4 linked regions of the Homo sapiens genome follow. The protein of the gene in region 4 purifies or fractionates together with the protein of the main gene of each other region. This does not show direct contact. Each region holds a gene or a part of one and is shown on either strand. Other genes may lie near its edges.

Evidence for each region.
Region 1: the proteins of CDS2 (region 4) and SLMAP purify together in Homo sapiens (affinity purification with mass spectrometry; one large-scale study listed by BioGRID and IntAct). This does not show direct contact.
Region 2: the proteins of CDS2 (region 4) and ALDH3A2 purify together in Homo sapiens (affinity purification with mass spectrometry; one large-scale study listed by BioGRID and IntAct). This does not show direct contact.
Region 3: the proteins of CDS2 (region 4) and SRPRB purify together in Homo sapiens (affinity purification with mass spectrometry; one large-scale study listed by BioGRID and IntAct). This does not show direct contact.

What each region holds. Positions count from the first base shown.
Region 1 is NC_000003.12:57,860,809-57,864,308, reverse strand, and holds part of SLMAP (sarcolemmal membrane-associated protein), read right to left. Parts: coding exon 3,470-3,500; intron 2,361-3,469; coding exon 2,223-2,360; intron 1-2,222. UniProt on the Homo sapiens protein: Associates with the striatin-interacting phosphatase and kinase (STRIPAK) core complex, forming the extended (SIKE1:SLMAP)STRIPAK complex.
Region 2 is NC_000017.11:19,665,751-19,669,250, reverse strand, and holds part of ALDH3A2 (aldehyde dehydrogenase family 3 member A2), read right to left. Parts: intron 1-3,500.
Region 3 is NC_000003.12:133,812,315-133,815,814, reverse strand, and holds part of SRPRB (signal recognition particle receptor subunit beta), read right to left. Parts: intron 226-3,500; coding exon 89-225; intron 1-88. UniProt on the Homo sapiens protein: Component of the signal recognition particle (SRP) complex receptor (SR). Ensures, in conjunction with the SRP complex, the correct targeting of the nascent secretory proteins to the endoplasmic reticulum membrane system.
Region 4 is NC_000020.11:5,130,008-5,133,507, reverse strand, and holds part of CDS2 (phosphatidate cytidylyltransferase 2), read right to left. Parts: intron 1-3,500. UniProt on the Homo sapiens protein: Catalyzes the conversion of phosphatidic acid (PA) to CDP-diacylglycerol (CDP-DAG), an essential intermediate in the synthesis of phosphatidylglycerol, cardiolipin and phosphatidylinositol.

The DNA of each region.
Region 1 (3,500 bases), on a different chromosome or scaffold from region 4:
CAGCCTCCCAAGTAGCTGGGATTACAGGCATGCGCCACCATACCCAGCTAATTTTGTATTTTTAGAAGAGACGGGGTTTCTCCATGTTGGTCAGGCTGGTCTCGAACGCCTGACCTCAGATGATCAGCCCACCTTGGCCTCCCAAAGTGCTGGGATTACAGGCATGAGCCACTGCGCCCGGCTAACCTGACATTTCTAAACCAGTAAAGATGATAAAGACAAAGGCTTGATGTCAAAAATTATCTGCATTGGGTTATTCCTCCATAACACCCAGGAGAGAGAAACTTGGAGGAAGCAAGTAGGCTCAGTACACACAGAGGTAAAGGGTCAATGTGGAAAAAAAAATCGTATTTTTAAAGAGGGAAGTAAGATTTTTCCCTAAAATTACTATCATTTCAATTTTGAAGTTCTATCATGTTAACATTCTGAAATTTTAAACAAAATTATTTAGTAACGAGATGACAGTACAATCACTATTCAAAAAGACCTCTCTGCCTATAGTTTGGATGTTCGTCCCCCAAGCCTCAATGTTGAAATTTGATCCTCAGTGTTGGAGATGGGGTCTAATGAGAGGTGTTTGGGTTATGGGAGCAGATCCCTCATGAATGGCTTGGTGCTGTCCTCATGGTAATGAGTGAATTCTCACTCTATTAGTCCTATGAAAGCTGGTTTTTAAAAAGAGCCTGGCACCTCTCCCAGACCCTCTCTCACCATGGAACACGTACCAGCTCCACTTTGCTTTCTGCCATCAGTGGAAGCAGCCTGAAGCTTCAGCCTGCAGAACTGTGAGCCAAATAAACCTCTTATCTTTATAAATTACCCAGGCTCAGCTATTCCTTTATAGCAACAAAAATGGACAATGACAATCTCCTTTTAACAAGACCAACTTTGAAAACTATCATAGGTTAACCAACGGAGGTATGCTCTGGTCTTCTCTAACAAACACATATCTTCTAGGCACTCAATCCATAGTTTGAATTAAACCAAGATGGACCTTCACAAACAGTTATAAGATTTTTTTTTTCCTCAGTTATAAGATTCTAAAGGACCAACTAGACATTACCCTATCATTACCCTATGATCTGATCTGTCCTTATCCTAGATGTCTCATAGATAGAGGGAATGGCAGCTAAAGCAGAGTTAACAGCATCCCTGAAAGCTAAAAGGGAGATCATTCCCAGATTCTCTCTGGGCTTGTTCCAGCACAGCACTAAATAGCTGGGCCCTGCCTTTTAGATGGCCTAATGATAAGCAGTTTTAGGTTTTAAAACATCTGAATATCATGGGTTTTGCTGATTCTCATCTACTTCCTGTTATATATTTTAGAAATGTCTATTGTGAAGCACTGACTACATATTCATCCAGAGGAACTATGTCAGCATTTACAGGCTTTCAATTATCTATAGTAATGGAGGTTGGGCTAAATGGAATACAGACACCTTATTTTCACTATAAATTTCAACTGTTACCAAATTTTTACATCAATAACTATTCAGCAATACCTAAAATCTTTTTTTATAGAAATCTTATTTAATATGTAGTACCACCTACATCCTGCTTTCATACTTTCAGCATAATTTAACACATTCAAGGAGACTATGCAAATCAATTCAAAATATCTATCTATACCAGTGGTTTTCAAACTGAATTTTTTTTTTTTTTTTTTTTTTGTGAGACGAAGTCTTGCTCTGTCGCCAGGCTGGAGTGCAGTGGTGCAATCTTGGCTCACTGCAACCTCTGCCTCCTGGGTTCAAGTGATTCTTCTGCCTTAGACTCCCAAGGAGCTGGGACTACAGGCATGTGTCACCACGCCCAGCTAATTTTTGTATTTTTAGTAGAGACGGGGTTTCACCATGTTGGCCAGGATGGTCTCAATCTCTTGACCTCATGATCTGCCCGCCTCGGCCTCCCAAAGTGCTGGGATTACAGGCGTGAGCCACTGCGCCTGGCCCAAACTGTTTTTTGTTTGTTTGTTTGTTTGTTTTTCCTTTGAGATGGAGTATCGCTCTGTCGCCCAGGCTGGAGTGCAGTGACGTGATCTCAGCTCGCTGCAACCTCCGTCTCCTGGGTTCAAGCAATTCTCCTACCTCAGCCTCCTGAGAAGCTGGGATTACAGGCGCCCGCCACCCCACGCCCAGCTAAAGCAATACCTAAAATCTTAAGCTATCTAGTGTGTTAGGGATTATTAGCTTAACATACTTTCAGGCAGAGTAAATACATACCTTTAATTTATCAGATAAATCTTTAATCTCATTAACTGCTCCATTATATTTGTTGGCTAATTCTCTTAATTCTTCCTGAGTCCTTTCATTCATTTCTTTCAGATGGGTACATTCATCTTCAGTATTACTCAGACTTCGCTGCGATTCAAGTTTACAGGCAATTTAATTAGAATAAGTGTATATTTGTTATTTAGAATTCCTTCTAAATGAAATTTATAAAAAGTATAATTCTATGGACTATTCTAAATCAACATCTGCCCTGGACTTTAAATAAAGCTGAGTCAAATAACATAAGAATTTCAATTCACACTAAAACAGAAAACATAACTAAGAATTAACAAAAACAACAAAAAAATAAAAGTGGAGGGAGAGCAGGGGCAGGAAAAGGATGCTGCCTTTATATAATTACATTTTTGAAAGGCCAATGGGTATGACTTTTAGCTGTGAAAATATTTTAAGCCTATCAATCCTTGAAAGCAAGTTTAATAATATCCAGCAATCAATTTAATAAAAAATTAAAAGACACTTAGTAACTTTCTTTATATATCAAATTAATCACACAACAGTGAATCAGGCACTATGGGATGAGGTAGCAATACAAACTATACCTGTAGTAAGGAAAGGTATGTTTACCATTTAGTTTCTGATGAGCATTTTAACTAATTCTAGTAATACATTATTTATGTGGTAATTTTGCAGTGGTTCAAAGAAAAGATCTATATTATGAATTAGAATTTTTTTCCCCAAAGCAATAAAAATTGCATTTTGATTGCTCCTCCAAGACCTAGAAAGGACCTTGGAGATGATTTCACCTTTGAACTTCCTAAATATATGACACAGCTAGTTTTCCTCTCTGCAGAGTGAATTAAAAAAGAACAAGTAGTGTAGACTCTTGGCCTTACACTGACCCCCCTCAAATAGAAGCAAAGCAAAACCAAGTGACAGGAAATCAATTCCCCAGCACATATCATGGTCTGCTGTATGGAGGGTGAATCCTAAGCAGAATGCAAACAATAAGATTCCCTGGTTACGCTTTTATTTCCTCAGCCATTGACTAGGGAGTAAGTACCAAAACTCACATGGAGAATTGCTGTCAATGAAAGCAGCGTAACTGTTCCTTCCCACCTGACAGACAGAAAGTATTTCCTAACTATATAATAATACCCAAGTTTAAAGTATCCTGGAATGCTTGAGATTTTTTTGAACACTCATAATACTATTTAGTATTTTTTTTTTGATTGAAATACCTCAACTTCTGAAAGTTTTCTAACCACTTCA
Region 2 (3,500 bases), on a different chromosome or scaffold from region 4:
GCTCACTGCAGCCTCCGCCTCCCAGGTTCAAGCGATTCTTCTGCCTCAGCCTCCCAAGTAGCTGGGACTACATGTGCATGCCACAATGCCCAGCTAATTTTTTTTTTTGTATTTTTTGTGGAGATGAGTTTTCACCATGTTGGCCAGGCTGGTCTCAAGATTCTGACCTCGGGTGATCTACCTGCCTCGGCCTCCCAAAGTGCTGGGATTATAGGTGTGAGCCACCATGCTTGGCCAACTCCATGGTTAAATGGAAAGAAAAGAAAAGAAAAAAGAAAAGAAAAGAAGAAAAGGAGGGAGGGAGGGAAGGAAACTACAGATAATATTTAATTATTTATTTATTTTATTCTTATTTTTTTGAGACAGAGTCTCGCTCTGTTGCCCAAGCTGGAGGTACAGTGGTGCACTCTCTGCTCACTGCAACCTCCGCCTCCAGGGTTCAAGTGATTCTACTGCCTCAGCCTCCTAAGTAGCTGGGATTACAGGTGGTGCCGCCACACCCAGCTAATTTTTTGTATTTTTAGTAGAGACGGGGTTTCACCATGTTAGCCAGGTGCCTTGGCCTCCCCAAGTGCTGGGATTACAGGTGTGTGCAACCGCACCCAGCCTACAGATGATATTTATATAATAATGAAATAGGGAAAGCTTTTCTAAGCCTACTTTCCAAATCGGAAACCAAAAAACAAAAAGCCACACAGGCTTAGGCCAGATGTGGTGGCTCATGCCTGTAATCCCAGCACTTTGGGAGGCTAAGGCAGGTGGATCACCTGAGATCAGGAGTTGAGGACCAGCCTGGCCAACATGGTGAGACCCCATCTCTACTAAAACTACAAAAATTAGGTAGGAGTGGTGTCGGGTGCCTGTAATCCCAGCTACTTGGGAGGTTGGGGCAGGAGAATTGCTTGAAGCCAGGAGTCAGAGGTTGCAATGAACCGAGGTCGCGCCATTGCACTCCACCCTGGGTGACAGAGTGAGACTCTGTCTCTAAATAAATAAACGCTTCAAATCATAGATAAAATTAAAAGAAAAATTAAAATCTGGAAAGGGATATGTATTACAGATAGGACTGAGGATTTTCTTACTTATAAAAAAGGCTATTTATATACCAATAATAAGGAAGATGTGAACACAGCAAAAATATCAAAGGACATAAATAGAAAATTCATGAGAGTGGTAAAAAAAATTCAAACTCACTAATAATCAAAGGAGTACAAATTGAAATGAGACCCTTTTCTGTCTAGAAATTTAATAATGGAATAATCCAGAATTGGGGATATAAGGAAGTAAACACTCATATACTGATCATGGGAATATAAAGTGGCAGAAATCTGCAAAGACACTTGAAATATCTATCAAAAGTCTTAAAGAGAAGCATTTCTAAAGAAAAACCTAGGCTGGGTGCGATGGCTCACACCTGTAATCCCAGCACTTTGGGAGGCCAAGGCAAGTGGATCTCTTGAGCCCAGGAGTTTGAGACCAGGCTGGCTAACATGGCAAAACCGTGTCTCTACTAAAAATACAAAAATTAGCTGGGCCTGGTGGCACACACCTGTAGTTCCAGCTACTTGGGAGGCTGAGCCAGGAGAATTGCTAGAACCCAGGAGTTGGAGGTTGCAATGAGCTGAGATCACACCACTGCACTCCAGCTTAGGTGACAGGGAGTCTCAGTCTCGATAAAAAGAAAAAAAAAAGAAAAATCTAAACTATATGCCAAAATATTAAAAAGTTTAACTGTTTAGACTTTTTGCCACTGTGTCTATATTACTTTGAGAATTAGAAGAAAAAAGCATTTTTTTCAATTTGGAAAATTGTATAAGCCCTTTTAACAGAGTAATTACACTTGTAGACATTTTTCCTAAAGAAATAATCAGAGATTGCATAAAGATACATTATATAAGAATCGTAATACCAAAAAAATTGAAATCACAAAAATCTAATACTGGGAATTGGTTACATAAATATGCCACATTCATATGATGGAAAAGTATGCAGCTACTAAAATTATGACATGCAAGAATATTGACATGGAAAAGTGTCACACTATTCTGTCACATACAGGGTACAGAACAATATATAGTATGATACCTTTTTGAATAGAATATTCAGATGACCGTGTATATGTGTGTGCATATGTGTGCAAGACATATACCAGTTATCTTTACATAGTGGGGTTATGGGTAATATAAATGTTTATTCTTTGGGCTCTTCTATCTTTTCCAAGTTTTCTTAAAAAGCCTGTATTCTTTTTACATTTGGGGGTCAAGGCTTGTTTTTATTTTTTATTTTTATTTTTTTACAGCATGGCCACTATAATAATGTATTATATGCCTGAAATTTGCTAAGAGAGTAAACCTGTTTTTTTCTTTTGCATCTTCTTTTTGTATTTTTAATTTTTGTGGGTATATAATAGGTTGCTTGTTTTATTTTATTATTTTTATTTATTTATTTATTTATTTATTTATTTATTTATTTTGAGATCGGAGTCTCGCTCTGTTTGCCAGGTTTGAGTGCAGTGGCGCAATCTCAGCTCACTGCAACCTCCACCTCCCTGGTTCAAGCAATTCTCCTGCCTCAGCCTCCCTGGTAGCTGGGACTACAGGCACGCACCACCACACCCAGCTAACATTTGTATTTTTAGTAGAGATGGGGTTTCACCATGTTGGCCAGGCTGGTCTGGAACTCCTGACCTCAAGTGATCCACCCACCTCGGCCTCCCAAAGTGCTGGGATTACAGGCATGAGCCACTGCGCCCAGCCTTGTTTTGTTTTAAATAAGATGGTATAGTCAATGATGCCACAGGCTATCTTGTCAAGTAGGACAGGGACTGAACCCAAGTCACTTAGATTTGCAATTAGAGGGCAGTGGAGACACCATATGGAACAATTACCGAGTTGATTACTGCACTAGCACAGTGGATGCCAGGATCCTATGTGGTGAGCTGAGGAACAGAGACAACAGAGTCCAATCTTTTAAGCATTTGGGCTACAAAACTATTACTTACTCCAGCCAAAATCCCAGGAGTCATCCTCTCTCATTCACCCCCTCCTCCAACATTCACTCCATCAGCCAATCCTGCTGCTTGATCCCAAAAATACCCCCTTCCCTTTCCACTATCTCCCCTGCTACCACCCTCTACAAGCCACCACCATTTCCAATTTGGATCTGGCAATACCTACCAATTGGCCTCTTCCCGCCTGTCCCTCACTCATGTCAGTCACTGTGCTGGGTGCTGGCAATATGTTTACCTCCTAGACAAGGACCTGTGGCTATATAGGTCAAGGCTCCTTGGTCATAGGACAAGGTTTCCTTAACCAGGAACAGATGGTCCTGCCAAACTGGGCCATCGCATCCCATGGAGCAACTGACTTAGGACGGTATTACAAAGGGAGAGGATAGAACAGGGCTTTAAGACAGTGGCTTTTCTGGTTGGGTTTTTGTTATGAGAATGTTTACATATCGGCTATTTTGTAATAGCTCTAGTAGAGAGTAGAAAAGCCCAC
Region 3 (3,500 bases), on a different chromosome or scaffold from region 4:
TAATAACAACTGTAAATAATGGAAATAATTCTTAGTAGCAGCAATCCCCAAAAAACTCAATTATTATTGCAAGAAAACATGATGGCACCTTGCTTATTGCAGGCTATTAAGAATGATGGTGTATTCTTCAGACCCATACTGTCAATGAGGACTTGATACAGAAACTCAGCCACATCTTTCACCTCTCGCTGGAATGCTGCACTATCCACAACAAACACAATAGCCCTGGAGGGAGAAAACAAGAAAAACTGGCATGTGAACGTGTAACAGGACATCATTATCTTGAAAAACTATCCTGAACTTCTTCAAAGTCAATCTTGGTGATTAACACTCAGCAGACACACATGCAGGTCTGTGCATATGTTATCATATAACATAAATCCTCATTTAACAAGGAACTATTGAGTGCTACTGTGTATCAATGACTGAAGCTGAAAAAAGACAGTAAGAAATGATGCCTGTCCTCCAAGACAAATCATCATATAGAGAACCATATGATAAATGCCAAGACAAAACTATGCACATGTGTAACAGGAATAAAGAGAAAGATCATTTAAATGAGACCAGGTCAAAGGCAACTTTAAGGAGAATGTAACAGTTGAGTTGAATCTTAGCTAGACCAAAAATTGGGGCACAGGCTGTCTGGAAAGTACAGGTTGAGTATCCCCAATCCAAAAATCCAAAGTCTAAAATCCAAAACACTTCTGGTTCCAAGCATTTTGGATAAGGGATACTCAGCCTACAGTATGTTCAAGCCACAAATACGTGAAACACATTCCCTGGGGAAGTCAAGGTAAGCTGGTACACAGGGAGATGGGGAAATGAAGGAGAACCAAGTCAGACAGTGAGGCGTGACACAATGACCTGTGGAGTTCATGCTTTTCTGTCTTATGAAGAATATTGGTGCCTAAATGGAAGACAAAGCAATCTTAGAGGGCGCTTGAACTAGAAGCACAGTGACCAGGTAGGGCCTGAACTAAGGCAGCCATAGTGGGACTCCTCATGTGACAGAAACAAAGAGATATCAAAGCTAAAGTGCAGCAGCCCAGGGAAACTGCAGACAACAGGTCTTAGGGGGCCGGGTGCGGTGGCTCACGCCTGTAATCCCAGCACTTTGGGGGGCCGAGACAGGCAGATCACTTGAGGTCAGGAGTTCGAGACAAGTCTGGGCAACATGATGAAACCCAATCTCTACTAAAAATATAACAATTAGCCAGATATGGTGGCGGGAGCCTGTAATCCCAGCTACTTGAGAGTCTGAGGCAGAAGAGTTACTTGAACCCAGAAGGCGAAGGTTGCAGTGAACTGAGATCATGCCACTGCACTCCAGCCTGGGTGACAAAGCGAAACTCCATCTCAAAGAAAACAAAAAAACAAAAAAACCGGCCAGGCGCGGTGGCTCACGCCTGTAATCCCAGCACTTTGGGAAGCCGAGGCGGGCGGATCACGAGGTCAGGAGATCGAGACCATCCTGGCTAACACGGCGAAACCCTGTCTCTCCTAAAAATACAAAAAATTAGCTTGGTGTGATGGCGGGTGCCTGTTGTCCCAGCTACTCAGGGGACTGAGGCAGGAGAATGGCGTAAACCTGGGAGGCAGAGCTTGCAGCGAGCCAAGATCGCGCCACTGCACTCCAGCCTGGGCAACAGAGCGAGACTCCGTCTCAAAAAAAAAAAAAAAAATACAAGCCTTATGGACAAGGGTTTGAATGCCCAGGTGGAGATAAGAGACATGCAATGGCCAACATGCAGCTGGGGAGCTAGAACTGAATGCCCTGCACAAAGCCTACAACTTAAAATAGTCTCAGGGAGGTCGGGGCTTGCAAAAAAAGTTCCCTTAGAAACAGCGGGCCTCCACTGCCTCACACAGATATAGGGTATGAATTTATACTCTCTCCAGGTGTAAGACCCCCAAGGGGAAAGGCTTACATAAAAATTGGGCCAGACTTATTGAAGCCCTATGGCCCCAACAGAAGGAACTATGAACCGCTTATGGAGCAAGGCTTTCATATCCTACGGGATTAAAGAACCACCACAATATCAATGATGTGTCACTCTTGAAGAAAGGTTCTGGAGCAAAAATTACAAGGCACAGAATAAAATAATTATGAGGGAGAATAACTGGTACCCCAAAGAGAATAATCAGCACCCCAAAACTAAGATAATAAAGCTATCTATAAAGTAAATGTTTAAAATTATTTAAGAAAATACTACAAACTACAATAAAAAATAGAATAGTATAAAAAGAAACAGGCTGGTTTGAAAAGGTAAGTATTTTAGACAAATATAGTAAATGATATTAATAAATCAATGGAAAAGTTAAGCAGAGATCATGCTCAGCTGAAAATAATGTAATAAACTAGAAAACAAATCTGAGGGAATCTTACAATATGCGAAGTAGAAAGATCTGGAAGATACGATAGAGAGGAAACAAGAAAGGCAAAAATAATAAGGTTCAATAACATTCATAAGAATTCCAGAGTGTGAGAAATGATCATGGGGAAACAGCACTACCTGGAGAAACGATGGTGAGAATTTTCCAAAACTGAGGAGAATCTTTGGTTTGGAATAGCACAACTGAATTCCAAGAATGATAAAGCTAAATCCATCCTTGAACAGAAGAAAATCTATCCCTGGATAGAAGGTCAAATCAGGCAGACTTACTACAGTGAAATGACAATTAGACTGACTGGCAAAAACATTCTCATCTGCAACAGATGGATGAGGTCAGGAGTGATGCGGCTGCCACCCAGGACTCTGCACTCAGCTAAAAGAGACATTCCAAAATGCTGGCCAAATAGAGTTACAAATGAACAAAGACTGAAAACATTTGACTACTCATCACCCTCTCTGGAAACACTTCTAAAAGATATACTCAGTGAGGGAAAACTGAATCTAAAGGGAAGAAGTAAAATTCAAGAAGCAATGGGGAGCAAAAGACCATAAGCATCCTGGTAATTCTCATCACTGAATGTAAGAGGAAAAAAAAGTATGGATGGGGGTTAAAAAGGAGCATAAATAAAAGGAAGATGTGAGGAAGATGAAAGTTAAAGTGTTTAAGGTTCAGGAAAAGGAAACTGATATTATTGGATTCAGACAATCAAATAGGCAATGTTTAAAAGATGGGGGAGGGGAACCATGATAAGAACAGCAACAGCATATGTTCAAATCAGGAGAGGGAAAATAGCCACTAGGGAAACTTGGCGAAGCCAGAAAGTAGGATTAAAAAAAAGTCACATACCAATATAGTAAATGTCTTTTCAACTTGCATGTTATCATGATTATAATTTATTTGAACTAAGTTTTATCTTCATATTTTGCATGTTTTATTTACCCAAAATACATGAATCACAGAGTAGTTATACTGCAAATCATAAAATATTTAGAACTGGCAATAGAAAAAGAAAAAACATTTAATTGGAAATAAAAACCCAATTATGGCAAAATTTACCAGCTCTAGATTTGTCTCAATTGTCCAAGGAATTTTCTTATCTGTGACAA
Region 4 (3,500 bases):
CCATTCTGTATCTAACCAACTAAGTCATCTTGAGCTAATAACTTAAACTCTCTGAGCTGTGGCATCCTCTTCTATAAAATAACTACCTCAAGCCGGGTGCCATGGCTCAGGCCTGTAGTCCTGAGCTACTCAGGAGACTGAGGTAGGAGGATGGCTTGAGCTCAGGAGTTTAAAGCTGTAGTGAGCTATGACTGTGCCACTACACTCCAGCCTGGGCAACAAGGTGAGACCCTGTTCCTAAAAATAAAAAACACCTTTAAAGTCCCTTCTAGTCCTAACAACCAAGGAGAGCAATTTAACATTTTTTAAAGATGATAAAAATTCTTTTTTTTTGAGATGAAGTCTCGCTCTGTCCTCCTGGCTGGAGTGCAGTGGTGGGATCTCGGCTCACTGCAAGCTCCGCCTCCCGGGTTCACGCCATCACGCCATTCTCCTCAGCCTCCTGAGTAGCTGGGACTACGGGCGCCACCACACCCAGCTAATTTTTTTTTTTTTTTGTAGTAGAGAAGGGGTTTTGCCGTCTTAGCCAGGATGGTCTCAATGTCCTGACCTCGTGATCCGCCCGCCTCAGCCTCCCAAAGTGCTGGGATTACAGGCGTGAGCCACCGCGCCCGGCCGATAAAAATTCTTCTAATGAAATACCATGTTAACCTGGGCAAACACAAAACATTTTTTAAAAATAGATTTTGGAAAAACTAATTTTAAATAGTCAAAAATCATGCAGTAATTGAGTTTTTAAAATAAAATCATACTGTTTGAGCAACAAAAATAAGAAACATAAAATAATTGGTTATATGAGAAAATAATCTTTCACCTCCTCTCCCTGTTAAGCCTGGGAATCATAGTTAAGGTTTACTGATTTTTTTAATTCCTAAATTATTTCTCAACATAAAAAAATTTTCTTGAAAAAAATTAAGCATTTCTCTTATACCTGAAGTAGTTATAGTTCTTTAATATTTTATTTGAGTAGTTCAATCTCAAAGTCTATTGAAAACCATTTTTAATTATAAAAGAAGGTAATTGCATACAACAGTGTTCAGTGGTCCTTCTACAGTTAAAGCCTGTGATTCGGAGTACTGAAAAATTCCACAAGAAAATAAACCAAAAAGAGGCCGGGCGCGGTGGCTCACGCCTGTAATCCCAGCACTTCAGGAGGCCAAGGCGGGTGGATCACCTGAGGTCAGGAGTTTGAGACCAGCCTGACCAACATGGTGAAACTTTGTCTCTACTAAAAATAAAAATATTAGTTGGGCGTGGAGGTATGTGACTGTAATCTCAGCTACTCGGGAGGCTGAGATGGGAGAATCACTTGAACCCAGGAGGCAGAGGCTGCAGTGAGCCAAGAACACATCAATGCACTCTAGCCTGGGTGGCACAGCGAGACTCCATCTCAAAAAAAAAAAAATTAAAATTGAAAATAAACCGAAGATAGGTCATAGAAGGCTAAGTCCTTTCTATAAAACTTTCCTTAAAAGGTAATGAATATGAATAGGTTCTACAAATATATATAACTTGAAGATTTAATCACCTTTCAAGTGTGTAAGATGAATATTAAAGTTTTTTCTATAAAAATCTATTTTAATCAGTAGCAACATAGCTAACATATTATGTGACAAGCTCTGCTGTCAGCCCATACATACGTTTAATCCACATGAATATCCTGTAAAGCACATACAATTTTATGACCCCCATTTTAATGATGGACAAACTGAGGCTGCCACAACTTCCATGATCTACTCAAAGTTACACAGCCTTTATGTGGCGGAGCCCAGGCTCAAGGTAGATGTAACTGACCCAAGCCCCTGCTCTTACACGCTATCTTCAGTTAAGATTTAAACTCCCCTTTCTAAATGATGTCACTATTTCCTCTCCATATGGGTTTCATCTATCTAGAAAGGAAGCCTTGAAATAAGTAAAGCTCTAATTTAAATAGCACTTCAGCAATTAAGTAAAGCAGAAAACCCCAGAACCTATACGCTAACTTCCGAAACAAAATCTCCTGAAATGCCAACTCAATCATAAATTTTAAGATGCCAATCTTTCAGACCATATCTCATCCTTTGCTTTCCTAAGCTCCATCAGAAAAATATGGTTGGGTAGGAAGAGGATCATTCCCAAAGCCTAAACTCCAAGTTTCTTAGTTTGGCAACTATACTGTGCTTTGGGACTTTAAAATTATAAGCACAGTTCCCAGAGGAGAACATTTCCTTTATTAGCAATTGGCTTTGAAAATTCCATTCTCAGATGCTAAATATAACAAAATACCTTCTGACTTTTATAAATAAACATGCTCCAGATTATTTTGATACTAATGATTTTCTATTTACAAGACAGTTTTGCCACAGCAGTTAAGCAACTGTAACATTTTGAGGAATCTTTCAAGTTTACTCCAGAGCTTTTTTTTTTTTTTTTTTTAAGACAGAGTCTTGCTCTGTCGCCCAGGCTGGCGTGCAGTGGCGCCATCTCGGCTCACTGCAAGCTCCGCCTCCCAGGTTCACGCCATTCTCCTGCCTCTCAGCCTTCCGAGTAGCTGGGACTACAGGCGCCCACCACCACGCCCGGCTAATTTTTTGTATTTTTAGTAGAGATGGGGTTTCACCATGTTAGCCAGGATGGTCTCGATCTCCTAACCTCGTGATCCACCCGCCTCGTCCTCCCAAAGTGCTGGGATTACAGGCGTGAGCTACCACGCCCAGCCTCCAGAGCTTTTCTTTTCTTTTAAGACGTTGTTTGGCTCTTGTTGCCCAGGCTGGATGGAGTGCAACGGCGCAATCTCGGCTCACCGGAACCTCTGCCTCCCAAGTTCAAGCGATTCTCCTGCCTCAGCCTCCTGAGTAGCTGGGATTACAGGCATGCACCACCACGCCCGGCTAATTTTGTATTTTTAGTAGAGACGGGGTTTCTACTAAAACCCCGTTGGTCAGGCTGGTCTCGAACTCCTGACCTCAGGTGATCTGCCCACCTCAGCCTCCCAAAGTGCTGGGATTACAGGCGTGAGCCACCGCGCCCAGCCTATTCCAGAGCTTTTAAAGCACTGACTTGAAAATTGTTCACTGGATTCTTCTACTATGAAATTAAAAAGTTCTTGTTTCATAATGCATTTCCTTAAAATTTATTATTTCTAATTTCCTTGGGTTCTAACACAAGAATATTGGCAAAGCCAAAGTCATGGAAGTAGGTGTTTCCCAAACTATGAAACAGAATAAATCAGGATTTTTTAAAAGTTTACTATGGGCCGGGCACGGTGGCTCACACCTGTAATCCCAGCACTTTGGGAGGCCAAAGTGGGTAGATCACCTGAGGTCAGGAGTTCGAGACCAACCTGGCCAACATGGTGAAACCTCGTCTCTACTAAAAACACAAAAAAATTAGCCAGTCGTGATGGCAGGCACCTGTAATCCCAGGTACTGGGGAAGCTAAGGCAGGAGAATTGCTTGAACACGGGAGGTGGAGGTTGCAGTGAGCCGAGATTGTGCCATTGCACTCCAGCCTGGGCAACA